Regions from separate parts of the Homo sapiens genome. Here region 2 is linked to region 1. A link means that fine-mapping ties the variant in region 1 to the expression of a gene that starts in the linked region. Tissue or cell type: anterior cingulate cortex. Region 1 holds a variant in brackets; the other region holds the start of a gene. All regions are shown on one strand. Distances are between the middles of the regions. Region 1 overlaps RALGPS1 (Ral GEF with PH domain and SH3 binding motif 1). Region 2 holds the start of RALGPS1 (Ral GEF with PH domain and SH3 binding motif 1).

Region 1 (8,000 bases):
TACAGGTATGCACCACCAGACCCAGCTAATTTTTGTATTTTTAGTAGAGATGGGTTTCACCATGTTGGCCAGGCTGCTCTTGAACTCCTGACCTCAGGTGATCCGCCCACCTTGGCCTGTCAAAGTGCTGGGATTACAGGCATGAGCCACGGCTGGAACAGCACATCTTTTAGTGCATGTAGTTTAATCTCAATGGATTAAACTGCTGTGAGTTGGAATTTCTATTATTAAATTATGAAGAGTTCTAAAAATAAAGGAGATCTGTTGTAAGGGAAAACATGATAATAGGTTGAGACAAAATTCTAAACCATTTCTCCAATACCTAAGGCTTTGGGAGGAAGGATGAGAGAGTGGGGAAACAAGTGCACTTAAACATAGGGCACACAGAACATGGCCACATAGCTATTCATTGTGTTACAGAAGGAGAGATAAGGGTTCAGTTTTGACTATTGGAGATCAGAACTTATATTAGGACTAGATTTGGTTGCCTATAATAATGCCTGAATGACAATGGGTTTACATCCTCACATAAAAAAGTAAAAAGATGGGCAGTCTAGGGTTGGTATAGTGGGATCAAAGATATCATGGACCCATGTTCCTTATATCTTGCCACTCTTCCATCCATAGCAGATTGCCTCCTGACCCAGTGTGGTTGCTTGAGCTCCAGTCATCACATCTGCATTCCAGGATTCAGAGGAGAAAAGGAGGAAGAAGGATGTGCCCCTTCCCTTCTGAGACACTTCTCAGAAGTTTTACATAGCTTTAACATGTGCATCTCCTTGAGTAGAGCTTAGCCACACTGAGGTGTGAGGGAACCTAGGGGTGCTTGGCTAAAGATGGGAGCTAAAGAAGACAAGGAGAAAGAAAGGAACTTGGCCTCAAAAGATAATCCCTACCAGGATGCAAGTTACAACAACAGGTTAAATGGCAGAAAGGTCACAAAGATGGATAAAACCAGTGTCAGGAAGTGAATGGGGGAGGTGGGTGCTCCTTTACATTACTGGTGGGAATCTGAATTGTTCAACTTTTGGGGAACATGATCTGAAGATACCTAATGTTAAAATATCTGTGTCTGGCAATCCAGCAGTATACTTCTGTGAGTCTCTTCTGCAGAAATAAAGCACTGATGCAAAACGTCGTACATACAATGCCATTTTCTGCATCACTGTTTATAGTGGCAAAAAGGTGAAAAGAAGGGGAGCACCCATCAGCAGTGTTGGAAAGGAGCCAGCTCTCTAGAAATTGGCACGAGAGAAGGCCAGGATATATTGTTAGGTTTAAAAAATCTGCTACCCTACCTGAGGAGCTCTGTCTAATCTCCCTCTCTGATGCTTGCTTTGGCCAGTTGAATACGCTACACCTTTTGAAAATGTGAAGTTTTAGGTGGTGTAGTAGCCATAGGCCCTGTCTGTCCCTATTCTGTTAAACCTCCAGCTTCACCATTGACGTGATCTGTCTGGGCCCAGCAGGCATGGAGGCCATGACCCTGGTCTCTGGCATGAGCCCAGCATGATTACATGTTGGTAGGCAGAAAGGCATGGAGGAATGTGCTCTTGGTGGCTCAAAGTGAGGTGGGTGGAAGGGGGAGGGCGTACAAGGAAGGGTGGGTTGATGGCTTCTTATTTGTACACCCCTACTGGGTTTGGCTATAGCAATAAGGATATGTTTTCAAAGTAGGCTTGCTCAGAAAAGGCTTTGCGAGTCATGGAAGCTGTGGGTGGCCACAGCTGTGACAGTCCAGTGAGGAAGATGAACACACACTTCACGACAAATGTTTTGAGTGTTGTGGAGAAGTCTAGATGCTCTAAAAGCTGTAGGAGAAGGACCTACCTAGGGCATCACTGAGATTTCCCACAGGAAGTGACATTTAAATGAGAATGGAAGAGTAGGAAAGAGCCAGGAGTAGAGGAGGGAGGAGGGTTTTAGGGAGACAAACTAGCCCCCGTTTTTGCTGGTGGTGAAAGAAGCAGGCTGGGTGTGGCCAGGGATGTGCCTGAATGACCTTCTGGGACCTGATGTGGTATCCACAAATCTCTCCTTCCTTGGCTGAGCTGTACCTACAGCGGAGCCACTTCTAAGGGCTGGAAGTGGGAGAGGGGGGCAGAGGGTCTGCACTTCAGCACAGAACATGTTCCCCTGATGGGCTCTGTGATCCTCATTGCTCCCCAGTCCTGCAGGGTCGCATGTGTCTGTCAAGGCACCTTCTCTCCTTCCAGTCCCTTTGTACTATCCTTCAGCCTTTTGGGACAGCAGAACCAGGCAGCTTGGGTGCTCATGGGGTGGCTTGAGCATCACAGGCTCACTCTGACCTTTCTCCTTTCCATAGTAGGCAGGGGAAGTATTCATTCATTTTTATTGAGAACACAATAGACTATGCTGGGCACTGTGCTGGAAACTGGGGATGAAATAACAGTATTTGAACATGTATCCCATGCCAGGCACTGTGATCAACACTTATTGCACAGAGATGGCTTCAGTTAAGGAACTTAACACATATAGAGCACTTAGACGAGTGCTTGGCACCCCCAGTACTCCTGAGCACCAGCTGTTGCTATTAGTTAATCCTTACCACAGCCACATGAGATGGGTACAATCCTGTATGCCCACTTTACAGAAGGGGAAATAGAAGCCAAGAGGCACTTGCCACATAGGTGGTAGATGGCAGAGCAGGATTCAAACCCAGGACAGTTGGACTTCCAAGTCCTGTCCCTCTCTGAGAGTGAGTGAGACAGACATAGAGGGTGAATGGGATAGACATGACCCTCGCTTTACAGAGCTCTTATGGTTGAGCAGGGAGCAGCCGCATTGGCATGTCAGAGTGACAAGCGTTGCGGAGGGCTAAGCAGAGAGCCTGCAGAGGAAGGCCATGGACCCAGGCTGGAGGCCTGTTGGGTGGAGGGGAAGGAAACAGTATTCTAGGTAGAGTCCTCTGCGATCAAAGTCACTTCCTGCTCACCTAAGGGATACGTTTCATTCGCCTCTGGGCTTCAGCGAGGAGGTACTAGTTCAGTCGTCTGTGTACAAGCTATTAATGATTAATAATTTGAGTGCAGGGGTGTGGCTACTCATCCAAGCCAGTGTTCTGGGATCTTATCTCCCAGGCACTCCCATTGAGGCTGACCCCTCCTTTTCCAAGCAACCTGTGCCCTGAGGTCCTGTCACACTTCTTTACCATGTGCAAATAGCCTGGGTTATGAATCTGTGCTGCCCAGCCCGCCTCTCACTCCACTTCTGTTGAGTGAGTGAGTACATTCAGATGTCGTGTTGGACTGTTCCATTGCACAGTTAGAAATAAAGAAATGAAGCATCATTATAAACCTATGATTGAAAGTCCAAGCCACGTAAATTCTGCTACGATCCTGCCACCTGCCACCCCAACATACTGAATAGTGTTTATGTTTGTGTACTTTTCTTCAGTCCCTGTCCATTGGGCAGGTGTATGTATATATATAATTTTTTTTTTTTTTTTGAGATGGAGTCTCGCTCTGTTGCCTAGGCTGGAGTGCAGTGGCGCGATCTTGGCTCACTGCAAGCTCTGCCTCCCGGGTTCACGCCATTCTCCTGCCTCAGCCTC[C/G]TGAGTAGCCGGGACTACAAGCCGCCCGCCACCATGCCCAGCTAATTTTTTTGTATTTGTAGTAGAGGTGGGGTTTTGTCGTGTTAGCCAGGACGGTCTCGATCTCCTGACCTCGTGATCCGTCGAACAGGTATATTCTTATGCTGTTGTGTACAAAAGTGCATCTTGTCTCTTGCTTTCTCGGCATGGTTGTATGAAATTGAGTAGTTAGGTGATTGGCCACCAGGTGGTGCTGCAGCACCAGGCACCAGACCCGAACCTGGGAACCGCTGTCTTTAAATACCCAGCTCTGAGCCATCCTTGTCTGTGTAAGTTCATTTTCAGTTTTTTCCTCTAGGTGCTGTGCTGCTCATAAATGTTTTCCATACCTATTTCAAAAGAAACCAGAAAATATTGAAGTGTACAGAAATAGAAAGTAAAAGTGCCATACAATAATGCCATTAAGAGGCAGTGATATTAACAGTTTAGTGAATATCCTTCTATACTTCTATATGTGTGTTCACATGTGTTATAAAGATTTTAAAACATGTTCAAGTGTCATTTTCTCAGTGAGGACTTCTCATATACGCCCCCCCCCTTTAAAATTATGACTTCGTCTAGTTGTGGGGGGGGGTTGTTGGGGAAGGAGGGATGATTAATGGATTCAAAGATAGGAAGAAGATTGGATAAGATCTAGTATTTGATAGCACAACAGGGTGATTGTAGTCAATAATAATTTAATTGTACATTTAAAAATAACAAAAGGAGTATAACTGGATTGTTTGTAACACAAAGGATAAGTGCTTGAGGTGACAGATATTCCATTTACCCTGATGTGATTATTACACATTGTATACCTGTATCAAAATATCCCATATACCCCATAAATATATGCACCTGCTGTGTACCTGCAAAAATTAAAAATAAGTGTAAAAAAAAGAGAAAATTATGACCTGTCTCCCACCCTGCCTACTTTTCTCTGCTTTACTTTTTTCTTTATCACTTACCATGAGCTGGCAAGCCTTGTCTTTTGCTGAATGATTTACTTAGTGTCTGTTTCCCCCACTAGAATATACTGGGGGTTTTGGGTTTTTTCTTCACTGCTCTATCCCTAGCATCTAGGACAGTGCTTGATATATACTAGCTTTTCAGGAAATAGTTATTGAATGAAAGCATGAAAGTGAGTGTGCCCTGAGTTTATGGACATTGCTCTCTGTCAGGAAGTATTGATCTCCCTCACCTTTTTATCTACCACTTAGTATCCCATTGAATGGATGTGTTCTAACTGTCTTTACTGTGGTTTTCAAGTGTTTTCCTGGCTTTTTTGTAGCCAGTGTTACAGTCAGTAGCTTTCCTGGAACATATACTCTCTGGTTATCTATTTGATGATTTCCTTGCTTTGTTTGAACTCTGGGCTTAGTGCTTTACAAAAAATAGCTCATATTAATCCTCACACCAACCCTCTAAGAAAGATGCTGCTCTTAGTTTCTCCTTTTCACCTGATGAGAAAGCTGAGGTTTAGAGAGAACAAACCCCCTGTTCAGGTCCACCCATCTTCCGAGTGTTGAGCCATCCTGTATTAAGGATGTTAATTCATCATCTGTCATGTGACATCACAAACACCCTTTTCCCAGTTTATTGACTGCCTTTCATTTTTTTCATGATGTCTTTTCCTTTATAGAAGTTTTAATTTTAATGTAGCTAAATCTACCAGTAGTTTTCTGGCTTTTGTATCACTCTTAGGACTTTTTTTTTTTACCTCCAAATTATTTTAAAAATTTGATCTGTGTTTTCTTTAGTATTTTTCCTTTTTTTGTTGTTAAGTCTTGAATCCATCAAAAGTTTATCCTTATATATGATATTGAGCAAGATTTTAAACAAATTCCTCTTTTTCCCAAGTGAATAGTAAATAGTTTCATCAACATTTATTGAAGAATCTATCTTCTCCACTGTTTGAAATGCCTCTTGGTTATATGCTACTCCTCACATATACTGGATCCTGTGTTCTGGACTGTGTCTTGTCCTGCAAATCTGTTTCTCTGTTTCTTTGCCATTTATCATTGACTGTGGCTTCCTGGCAGGATAAGACTCTTCTTACTGTAGTTCTTTTTTGAAAATGTCTTAGCTGTTTTTAATTATTCTTCCAGATGAAATTTTAAATCAATTTGTTGAGTTCCAAAATGAATCCCCTTAGGATTTGGAGTGAACTTACATTTTATTTATAGATTGATTGGGTGGAATTGATGGCTTTACAATACTGTCTCCTTATTCCAGGGAGTGAAATGTCTCTCCTTTGATTTAAGTCTTTTTTTTTGTCTTTTAGTAAGGTTTTATAATTTTCTTTAAATGATTTTTGTACATTTCTTTTAAAGTTTATTTCTGGATATTTTTCTCTTTTGTTAGTGGGCTCTTGGGCCATTACGCTTTCTAGCTGGCTATTGTTTGTACAGAGGAAATTGTTGATTTTATAGCTGGATAGATATCATTCATAGATTTCTCTCTAGTCCACTTCCATTTGCTTGAAATCTAGAAATTCTTAATAATTTATAGTTCATTGATGTCATCCTTTTCTGTATTTTAATGCTGCAACAGATTTTTTCCTTTTTTTCTTTTTTGAGATGGAGTCTTACTCACTCTGTTGCCCAGGCTAGAGTGCAGTGGCGCAATCTCAGCTCACTGCAACCTCCACCTCCTGGATTCAAGCGATTCTTCTGCCTCAGCCTCCTGAGTAGCTGGGATCACAGGCATGCACCACCACGCCCGGCTAATTTTTATATTTTTAGTAGAGACAGGGTTTTGTCATGTTGGCCAGGCTGGTTGTGAACTCCTGACCTCAAGTGATCTGCCCTCCTTGGCTTCCCAAAGTGCTGGGATTACAGGCGTGAACCACCGTGCCTGGCCTTATGTTTTATTTATTTGGTCCTTTCAGCAGGACCTGGAGAGTGGAAGGCAAATGGGTGGACTCCTCTCATTATCTTCATAGTCTATTAGTCGAGGTTGATGTGAAAGTGTCATCTGTCCCTGTGCCTTTCTGGCACCTCCAACCCACACCATCAACCCTGCAGTGCTCTCCGTGGAATGTGGGCTGACCCTGAAGAGCCTTAGAAACTGGGTGCAGGTTTTCCGTTTTCCTGTCACCTGGGGTGTGCCCTTTACTCCTGAAGTCTTTCTCCTACCGCTGCCTGGACTGCTTTCACTGCCCCTTTTCCAACCAGACCTTGCCCACCCTGCCTGTCTCTGTAGACAGCTTCCTTCTTGTTTTAAGGGAAGGACCAGGCTGTTCATTATGAAAATTAGGTCGTAGGGCCAGGACTCAATGCTGTTTGTCAACAAGGCCCAATAATGTAATGTGGGTATCCTGTTCTGCCAACCTAACCCTTGCCTCAAGGTTTCTGAGGTACCTCATCGCAGAAGGAACAGCAGCCAAGGAGAACTCAGAGACCCTCATTATAAGCCTGGCACCCTAACACAGGACCCTCTGGTCAAAGCTGGGTTGGAGCAGGTAATGGGCTCGCAGCCCATGGGGGCCTCCCACTTGCCTGAACTTGATCTGTGTCTGGGTCCCTTACCATCCGCCAGCCAGCAGCAGTGTATGGGACATGCAGGCCTGGTGGGCACCCTTAGGCATGCACGCAGGAGTCAGAGAGGGGCTGAGCTCAAGCAGAGGCCCTAGTTCACCACACATCTCACAGCAGCAGTGGAGAGAAGAGAAGGCCTTGAATAGGTGATGATCTTTTGGCACTTAGTGACACTAATGGATGTGGTCCTATCCTGACCTGGCTTGGTACCAGCCAGACCAGTAATGCCTCTGCCTTTGGCAGGATCTAAGAGGGAGGGAAAAGGAGGTCAAGACCCCCTGCTCCCTACACGCCTCCACAGTCCACCTTAGATGGTTTCTGTTTGGCCCACACGTAACAGGTGTAAAATGCCTGATTGTCAACACCCAGGGCTGCAGTCCTCCCATAATGGTTTTTCACAGGAAATGTTGAGACCCCTGTTTTTAGACCTATTCCTAAGGGAGACTATGGGGAGGGAAATTGGGTGGGGAGGGAGGGTGGGATAGGATATGAGAATATAGAATCCTTAATTTTTTTTTAACTTTTTATTTTGAGATTATTTTAGATTTATAGAAAGGCTGCAAAACAGTACAGAGCTTACATAACCACAGTACTATTATGAAATTAATAGGTACCACACTGTTTACTGAACTACAGACCTTTTTCAGATGTTACCAGTTTTCCCCACAGTGTCCCTTTTCTGTTTCAGGATCCAGTCTAGGGTCCCTCAGTGCATTCAGCCATTGAGTCTCATCAGTTTCCTCTGGTCTGTGATAGTTCCTTAGTCTGTCCAGAAGGTATCAGCTGAGCCTTGGTGGATGAAATTTAGAGTCTAGTTTTGGTGATTCTATTTGTCAAGCCTATAGAGTGAAAGAGTCTCATCTAGCCCT
Region 2 (9,828 bases), 28 kb before region 1:
AGATCGCACCACTGCACTCTAGTCGGGGAGACAGAGTGAGACTCTGTCTCAAAAAAACAAAAAAACGTGCAAGGATTTTATCAGGGGGAAATGGGTTGAGAGAGCCAGCAGACTGTGAATCAAGTCTGACCTCAAGTAAAGGAGAGAGGGAAGGGAGTGTGTGGAAGCATCCCATACTGCCACACAGTCCAACAAAGCGTCAGCAAGGCTGTCGGGCTGTCTTTGAGCCAAAGATTATCTATCACCAGAGGACTCCCATTGTCACCCGGGGCCAGGCCTGCCTTAGTATTCCTGCCATGGTCAGTCATTGGGTGCAGCCCATGGGTAACATGGCTTTGGTGCCAATGCTTTGATGGATTTCAGAGTGCAGAAGCTGAGCCCTTGGTCAAATAACCTCCCTATAGTTGGAAGTCTGCCAGGTGCATACTCATGGTCACTATAGGATTAACTCACTTTTCCTCAGGAGCACCCTGTAAGATAGGTACTCTGGATATTATCTTCTCAGAAATGAGAAAACCGAGGCATAAAGAGCTTTGGACACTTGTCCAAGGCCACATAGATGGGAATGGAAAAGCCAAGATCGTTTCCTAGAACTGACCAAATTCAAAATTTCACTCTCAGTCCCTATTCTTCCACCTCCTTCCTGCTTCCCATAGTGATGCCTGCTTTCCCTGACGCCCCTTGGTGGCACCTCACCATTGTACCTGTGTGCACAGGAAAAGCACCTGTGTCCCTAATGACAGTGCTCTTTCCTGCGCCCTATTTTCTGTCTTCTGATGCCCCCAGAGATACCAGCCACCAGGATCTGGAGGATACTTTATTCCAGAATCCTTATAACACCTGGGTGTTGATGGCCTCTGAGCAGGAGCTACCTCTTAGGCAACAGAAAAGAGTGGGTTATGGCCTGTATTAGTTATCTTTTGCTGTGTAACAATTTTATCCCAAATGTGGCAGCTTAAAATAACACACATTTATTATCTCAATGTTTCTATAGGTTAGGGACAGCTTTGCTAGGCCCTCTTCTTCAGAGTCTCACAGGCTATAATCAAGGTGTTGGCTGTGGCTGCAGTCACATCTGAGGCTCAACAGTTGAAGGATCTGCTTCTGAGCTCATGTGATTATTGGCAGCATTCTGTTCCTTTCAGGCTGCTGGGCTGAGGGCCCCAGATTCATTGTTTCTTTCTTTCTTTCTTTCTTTCTTTCTTTCTTTCTTTCTTTCTTTTTTTTTGAGACGGAGTCTCACTGGGTCGCCTAGGCTGGAGTGCAGTGGCACAATCTCGGCTCACTGCAACCTCTGCCTCCTGAGTTCGAGTGATTCTCTTAACTCAGCCTCCTGAGTAGCTGGGATTACAGGTGTGTGCCACAATGCCCGGCTTATTTTTGTATTTTTAGTAGAGATGGGGTTTCACCATGTTGGTCAGGCTGGTCTCGAACTTCTGACCTCATGATCTGCCCGCCTCGGGCTCCCAAAGTGCTGGGATTACAGGTGTGAGCCACCGTGCTCGGCCAAAGGCCCCCCCAGTTTCCTGCTGGCTGTTGGCTGGAGCCTGCCCTCCGTTCCTTGCTGCGTGGTCTTCTCTATAGGGCAGCTCACACCATGGTGGCTTAGATCTTCAAGGCCAGCAAGAGAGTCTCCTAGCAAGATGGGTTACAGTTTTCTGTAATGCAATCACATACCTCCTAAAGCCTTTGGCTCATTCTATTGGCTAGGAGCAAGTCAGGTCCTGCCCACACAAGGGCAGGGACATAATGAGGTGGGCATTATGGGGACACCTTAGAGTCTGTCTGTCACACCTTCCTTATGGGTCAGCATCTCTAATGAGAACAACTCCTTGAACCTTCCCAAGTTTGGCTCTCCATGAAGTATAAGTTTGTGCAAAGACAGCCGGGTTGAGGCTTGACCCTTGGTGATTTCTCCAATCCTCCTTTCCTCCTGTGGCTCAAAAGTTCCTTTCCCTCATGGAGAGTGACTCAAACACATCAGATACTAAGAATGTGCCCATTTCACCAGCACATCACACTTTGACAGTGAACTCTAGTGGGCACAGCTAAGATCCTCTCCACATCCTGTTACACATATTTAAGCATGGGAATGATGGGATTGACCAGACTTTACAATAACTTCATTTTATTTATTTATTTATTTTTTGAGATGGAGTCTCACTGTATTGCCCAGGCTGGAGTGCAGTGGTGTGTGATCTTGGCTCACTGCAGCCTCCACCTCCTGGGTTCAAGTGATTCTCCTGCCTCAGCCTCCCAAGTAGCTGGGACTACAGGCATGTATCACTGTACCTAGCTAATTTTTGTATTTTTAGTAGAGACGGGGTTTTGCCATGTTGGGCAGGCTGGTTTCAAACTTCTGACCTCAGTTGATCTGCCTGCTTTGGCCTCCCAAAGTGCTGGAATTACAGGTGTGAGCCACTGCGCCTGGCCAACAATAACTTTAAAAAATAGCTTTATTGGCCAGGTGTGGTAGCTCACACCTATAATCCCAGTACTTTAGGAGGCCGAGTCGGGCGGATCATGAGGTCAGGAGATCGAGACCACCCTGGCCCTGTCTCTACTAAAAATACAAAACATTAGCCGGGTGTGGTGGCACCCACCTATAGTCCCAGCTACTTGGGAGGCTGAGGCAGGAGAATCACTTGAACCCGGGAGGCGGAGGTTGCAGTGAGCCGAGATTGTGCCACCTCACTCCAGCCTGGGCAACAGAATGAGACTCCGTCTCAAAAAAAAAAAAAAAAAAAAGCTTTATTGAGATATAATTAACCCACTTAGAGAGTATAATTCGGCCAGACATGGTGGCTCATGCCTGTAATCCCAGCATTTTGGGAGGCCGAGGCGGGCAGATCACTTGAGGTCAGGAGTTCAGAACCAGACTGCCAACAAGGCGAAACCCTGTCTCTACAAAAATACAGAAATTAGCCAGGTGTGGTGGCATACACCTGCAGTCCCAGCTACTCAGGAGGCTGAGGCAGGAGAATTGCTCGAACCCAGGAGGCAGAAGCTGCAGTGAGCTGAGATCGTGCCACTGCACTCCAGCCTGCACAACAGAGTGAGACTGTTAAAAAAAAAAAAAAAAAAGAAAGAAAAGAAAAAGAAAGAGAAAAAAAGAAAAAAAAAGAGCGAGAGTATAATTCAATGGCTTTTAGTATATTCAGAGTTTTACAACCATCACCACAATTAATTTTAGAACACTTTCATCCTCTTCCAAAGAAACTCCTAAGTTGTTGCCCCTAAATCCTCCTCTCCTTCAGCCTTAGACAGCCACTTTGTCTACCCTCCATCTCTATAGATTTGCTTATTACGGACATTTCATATAAAAGGGATCATATAATACGTGGTCTAGCTTCTTTCGCTTAGCATGTTTTTAAGTTTCATCCATGTCGTAGCATGCATCAGTACTTCATTTCCTTGTATAGACAAACCATATTTTATTTATCTATTCATCACTTGATAGACATTTGGGTTATTCACATTTTTTGATATTGTGAATGATGCTGCCGTGAACACCTGTCTACAAGTTTTTGTGCAGACATGTTGTGTCCATTTCTTCTTGGGTGGTAAGTAGGAGTGGAGTGATTGAGTCATATGCTAACTCTATGTTTTCTAAAGTGGTTGTACCATTTTATATTTCCACCAGCAGTGTATAAGGGTTCCATTCTCTCTCTCTCTTTTTTTTTTTTTTTTTGAGAGGGAGTTTCACTCTTGTCCTCCAGACTGGAGTGCAATGGCGCCATCTCAGCTCACTGCAACCTCCACTTCCCAGGTTCGAGTGATTTTCTTGCCTCAGCTGGGATTATAGCCACTTGCCACCACACCCAGCTAATTTTTTTGTATTTTTAGTAGAGATGGGGTTTCACCATGTTGGCCAGGCTGGTCTTGAACTCCTGACCGCAGGTGATCCACCCACCTTGGGAGACAGGCGTGAGCCACCACGCCCAGCCAAGGGTTCTATTCTCTTCACCTTCTCATCAACACTTGTTATTGTCTATCTTATTTGTTGTAGCCATCCTAATGGGTGTGAAGTGGTATCTCATTGTGGTTTTGATTTGCATTTTCCTAATGGCTAATGATATTGAGCACTTTTTCATGTGCTTATTGACCACTGTGTATCTTCTTTGGAGAAATGTCTATTCAGATCCTTCTCTCTCTCTCTCTTTCTCAGACTGCACTTGGCTTTATTGCTTTAAGAAACCTATTATTTCTCGCTTATCACCATCTAAACTTTTCTGTCTTCTTTAACGTTGAACTCCCTTCTTCCTTGCTTCATTTTACTCCCATAGCACTTTTCTCTATCTAGCCTACTACTGTAAATATTGATTTTAATAGCTGCCTTACCCCACTAGAATGTCAACTCCACGAGGACAAGAATTTTTGTCTCTTTTATTCACTGCTGTTTTCTCAGCATTTACAGTAGCACTTGGCGCATAGCAGAGAACCATTAGATATTTGTAGAAAGAATGAATACATCCTTCTGGAAGCATCAAGAATCAATATTAAATGACCTTTCCTCATTTTAAAATTGGGTTTATAATAACTTCTAATATATCACAAAAGAATCTGTGTTCATTGAAAAAACTTAGAAAGTATGCATAAGCATAATAAAAGTATAGATGCCATTTAGCAAGCGTACATTGCACACACTTCTGTGCTTGCCCAAAGTCACACAGGTAAATATAATAGTAGCCAATGTTTATTGAGGTCCTGTTAGGTGCCAGGCACTCTTCCATGTATCATCTCATTAATTCCTGCCAACAGCCTGTCTAAAGAGGTTGCTACTTTTATCATTCTCATCTTTCAATAAAGAAACCGAGGCAGGTTGGGCGCGGTGGCTCAAGCCTGTAATCCCAGCACTTTGGGAGGCCAAGGTAGGCAGATCACCTGAGGTCAGGAGTTCGCGACCAACCTGGCTAACATGGTGAAAACCCATCTCTACTAAAATACAAAAATTAGCTGAGCATGGTGTGTCTGGCGTCTGTAATCCCAGCTACTTGGGAGGCTGAGGCAGGAGAATTGCTTGAACCTGGGAGACGGAGGTTGCAGTGAGCCAAGATCGTGCCACTGCACTCCAGCCTGGGCAACAGAGCAAGACTCCGTCTCAAAAAAAAAAAAAAAAAAAAAGAAAGAAACGGAGGCACATAGATATGCTAAGTAACTTGCTCACATGTACACAGCTTGCTGGTGGCAGAGCCAGGGCAGAACCATTGCACTACACTGTCTCTTGTTCTCTCTCTCTCTTCTTTTTTTTTTTTGGGACGAAGTCTCGCTCTGTCGCCCAGGCTGGAGTGCAGTGGTGCGATCTCAGCTCACTGCAAGCACCGCCTCCCAAGTTCACGCCGTTCTCCTGCCTCAGCCTCCCGAGTAGCTGGGACTACAGGCGTCCGCACCACGCCCGGCTAATTTTTTGTATTTTTAGTAGAGACAGGTTTTCACCATGTTAGCCAGGATGGTCTCTCTCTCTTTTTTGAGACAGGGTATCGCTCTGTCATCCAGGCTGGAGTGCAGTGGCGCCATCACTTGAGGCTCACTGCAGCCTTGACCTCCCGGGCTCAAGTGATACTCCCATCTCACTCTCCTGAGTAGCTGGGACTACAGTCTGCGCCACCACGCCTCGCTAATTTTTGTATTGTTATTAGAGACAGGGTCTGGCCATGTTGCCCAGGCTGGTCTCACACTTCTGAACTCAAGCAATCCTCCCGCTTTGGCTTCCCAAAGTGCTGGGATTACAGGCATGAGCCAACTCGCCAGGCTCTTGTTCTCTTTATGCAAAATAATTAAGCACCTTCTTCGATGATTACCGTTTTCTTAATACAAAATAGCAGAAACTTCTCCCAGAGGTCTTTTAAGACACAGGTGGTTTAACTTCTACTGACTCTATTTATATTCTTTTTTGTTTGTTTCTTTTTTCCTTTCATAAGCTTTGGGAAGCATAATAACCAATCATTCCATATTCATTCATATTACTGCAAAATTACTTTGAAGATTGTCAGAATGATGTTCTATTTGTCCAAGAATCTTTCGGAGTAGGGCAGGTCATAGTACCTCCTGTCTGTGGGAGGCAGAACGGAGTTTTGCTGTGGTTCCAGATTTCCAGGGATTCACAGACCTGGCTTCAATTGTCTTTGCAATTTATTATCCCTGCGACTCTAGCTAAATGACTTAACCTCTGTGCCCACCTCACCGTGCCTGGCACAGAGTAAAGATGTGGGAGCAGAGAGACAGGATCCGGGCTCATTCCCCAGCTTTGCTCCTGTGTGGTCTTGGGCAAGTCCCTTCACCTCGTTGGGCCTAACTCTGCCCAGCTGTAAAATGGATGAGACCGCCCCCCCCCCCGCCCCGCCAGGAACTCCGAGGTTTCTTCTGGCTCTGACGTTCTGGGCTCTGTGCCTACCTCCCAGCTGTGAAGAATGGGCACTAAGGCGATGTCTCGCTCACAAAACCATTTTTGTTGAAAACGATAAATCCCAGGTAGGGATTTACGGGGGATATCGGGTGAGGCCTGGACGGCCGTGTGGGGAATAAGATGCGCGGCTATTTCTAGGCAGGGGATGGGCGTGGCGGGCGGCGGGCCGGGTGTGCTGGCAGCGCAGCATCCCTGCGGGCGGGGAGGGCGTCTGCAGATGAGCTCGGAGGCCGAGGCCCGGGAGGACCGCGGATGCAGCGGCTGCGCACTGGTACGACCAGCCGGCCGATTTGCGTGTCTCCGCCCCTACAACGAGCTGGTTGGGGGGCTGTTCTGGTGCCGCGCGCCGATTGGATGAGAGGCCCGCCGCTCAGGCCCTGGAGCGGACGGTTCCTACTGCGGCTGGGCACCGGCTCCGCTCCCGCGTCTGCCCGCGCTCCAGCTGCGCCTGGCCCGGCCCCGGCCCGGCTCGGCGTGGCCCCGGCCTCCAAGCGAAGGCGCCGCTGCCGCTGGGCCGCTCCCAGGGCCATGAGGAAGCGGCGGCAGCCACTGCGGCCCGCGTCAAGGTGACCGGCCGGGACTGCGGCGGCGGGGAGAGCGGCGGTGAGAGGCGCGGCCGACGGGGCGGGGCGGGGCGGGGCGGGCCCTGAGGCCGGGCCTGAGGGAGCTGCAGGTGTGGGGGGCGGGACCCCGAGGGCCGCCGAAGCCGGGGAGGGGCCTCGGTGCGGGAGGCGGGGCCGGGGCCGTGCCTGCGGGTGCCCGGCGCCGGGGCCTGGCCGGGGTCCGGGGGTTCTGGGGTCCGGGGCCAGGGGCGCGCTGGTCCCCGGGAGCGTGAAGGACGGCGGGGAAGAGGCGCGGGCGCGGGGGGCGGGGCCGGGGGGGCAGTTGGGCGGGGCGCCGCGGCTGCAGGTGCGGGGGGCGGGGCCGGCGGGGCTGCCGTGGGCGGGGCTGTGGGGTGCGGCCCGCGCTGGACCCAAGGAAAGCACAGGTGCGGGGGGCGGGGCCCGGGGACCTGCAGCGGTGGGGGGCGGGGCCCGGGTGGCTGCGGTACGGAAGCAGGGCCCCAGGTGAGGAGCAGGCGAGGGTGAGTGGTCGCCCGAGAAGGAAAGGCCGCCCTCTCCGCTGCCCAGGGGTGCTTGGGTGGGAGCGGGGGCTTTGGGCTCCCTGAGGATTCTGGGGGCATCCGGGGCTGCCGCTAGAAGGGCCGTCCGGGCCTGCCTGTGCCTCTGCTGACTCGGGCTTGGAGCTCAGCTGCCCTGGTTACTGGCCGGTTGCCTCCCCTATGCTACGCCGCGCCCTAAGTGGGGCGCGCTGTTTTTCGCACCTCAGGGGCTTTCCTGTTGCTATTGAAGGGGCTTGCCAGGATGCGGGGGGCGGGGGGTTGGTTGTCATTGGATGATCGGTTGTTGAAAAATGTGTGTGCTTGAAGAGTAGTATGAGGCTTGGGAGGGGTCCTGGCTTGCTGGCCACTGGTACCAGAAGCTGCTGTAGATCTCAGCAGTGCGTCTCAAAAAGACTGAAATGGCAGCCTGTTAAGTGGGGAGAGCAGGGATGAGAATTCAGAAGCTTTTGACTATGCTACCTGGGAGAGTTTTTCACCTGTTTCCTCCGTTGCAAAATGAGCATGTTAGTACCTGCCTGTGTGCCTCCCAGGGGCCTGGTGAGGATAGGATGAAACAGTGCCTACTGAGCAAATCGCTGGATAAAGTTATGAGTTTCCTTTTTCTTGTGCCGATGGGCAGGTTGGATTCAGGGACTGGAGAGTCTAAAGAAGAGAGGGTTTGTTTCTAGTTAAGAGGTGAGACTAGACCACTGTCTTTTCGCAGTTTGGGATGAGGTTTTGTTGGGAGTTCCCAAAAGACTCAGCCGTGTCTTGGATCGTGACTGCTTCTCTCTGCGAGGCCTCTGAGGGAGCTGCTGCAACGCAGGGAGCAGTGGCAAGTGGAAGCAGCAGAACATTTGTTTGCTGACCTTTAGACCCCAACCCCGGTGAGGACTCTGAGCTGGAACATAAAGCTCAGGCCTGAGGCTATGGAAGTCCCTCTGCCCCCATCCAAGTACAGACCCCGATTTTACCACATTCCAAGAGGGTCGGGCGCGGTGGCTCACGCTTGTAATCCCAGCACTTTGGGAGGCCAAGGCGGGTGGATCATTTGAGGTCAGGAGTCCGAGACCAGCCTGGCCAACATGGTGAAACCCCCTCTCTACTAAAAAATACAAAAGTCAGCCGGGCATGGTGGCGGGCACCTGTAATCTCAGCTACTCAGGAGGCTGAGGCCGAGAATTGCTTGAACGTGGGAGGCGGAGGTTGCAGTGAGCCGAGATCGTGCCACTGCACTCCACCCTGGGCGATGGAGTGAGACTTTTCCATCTCAAAACACACAAAAATCCCCAAAAGAAGACCCCCAAAAGAAGGCAATGCCTGACTCCACTGTGTACCCACAGGGGCGGGGAGAAGGAAGCAGGATGACAGGGCTTTTTCTGAATTTCAGAAGAGTGTTGTATACCCATATATGTGACCTTTCAAAGCCCAGTGCCTCTGCTCACTGGTAGTTGACCAGTCCAAACTGTAATGCCTCCTACCTTCGTTGCATGGACAGAAGTGAAGGTAGGTGGAGCCTTCTCTACTAACCTGAATTTTTTTTTTTTCACTGTAGAAGCTGTGGGACTTTAGGGGCCAGGAACCATGGTGCTGGCCTCCCTCATTACCACTAGTTGGTGCAGTGGTGACCCAGTAGCATTGAGGGGATTAGGCCCTTACTGGTGCCTGTGCTTGTGTGGCAGGTCCCAGAGGATCTAGAAGCAGCATGTGAGAGTTCTCCCACTCTGTCTTGGCAGAAGCGGTGTTAATGGCTCTCAGAGACTGCTGCTGTCTGAGTGACCATCATGCTCTTTGGGTTAGAAGGAAAGCTCAAACTTGGTGGCAAAGAAGACCTAGAACATGTGTTGAATAATGAGGGGATTAGCAACATTCAGGGTGGAGAGAAATACTTCATTAATGAAAAATACTGCATGTGAGGCTCTGTGATATGGCCCACCTCTTGAAATGGATTTTCCTTTTCAGTATGGAGGGTAAGAGCTCAGACTTGGAAGTCAGTCAGGTCTGTTTGAAACTGCAGGCTGCCACCTCCTGCTGAGTGAACCAGCACTACTTCCTTAGCTTCACAGAGCTTTGGTTTCTTTATTTGTAAAGCAAGGATAACCATGCCCACCTTGTGAGGTTGTTATGAAGAATAAATGAGACGGGAGGGGAGAAGGCACCTGATCCACCTGGTTAGGGTCCTGTTCTGTCTCTCACTGCCTGCCCATCTTTCAACACAAGCTACTCAGAACAGCATGTAACATGCAAGGAGAGCAGGACAGGGAATTCTGAGGCCTCTATTTTTTATGTAACCTTGAACAAATCCCTTCCTGTCTCCAGA

Evidence for each region. PIP is the estimated chance that this variant, and not a neighbour inherited with it, causes the effect.
Region 2: RALGPS1 starts here. The variant in region 1 is fine-mapped to the expression of RALGPS1 in anterior cingulate cortex (GTEx, PIP 0.93).

Annotation. Positions count from the first base shown.
Region 1 is chr9:126,936,989-126,944,988 of GRCh38, forward strand. The region is part of intron 1 of RALGPS1 (Ral GEF with PH domain and SH3 binding motif 1); the gene reads left to right. Among named protein-coding and RNA genes, the nearest start is that of RALGPS1, 26 kb to the left of the region's middle. The variant C/G (reference allele first, on the strand shown) is at 3,575.
Region 2 is chr9:126,908,004-126,917,831 of GRCh38, forward strand. RALGPS1 (Ral GEF with PH domain and SH3 binding motif 1) reads left to right here and starts at 6,779. Exons shown (of 19, transcript NM_014636.3): 1 at 6,779-6,972. RefSeq lists a silencer at 6,751-7,180 and enhancers at 7,671-7,740, 9,034-9,083.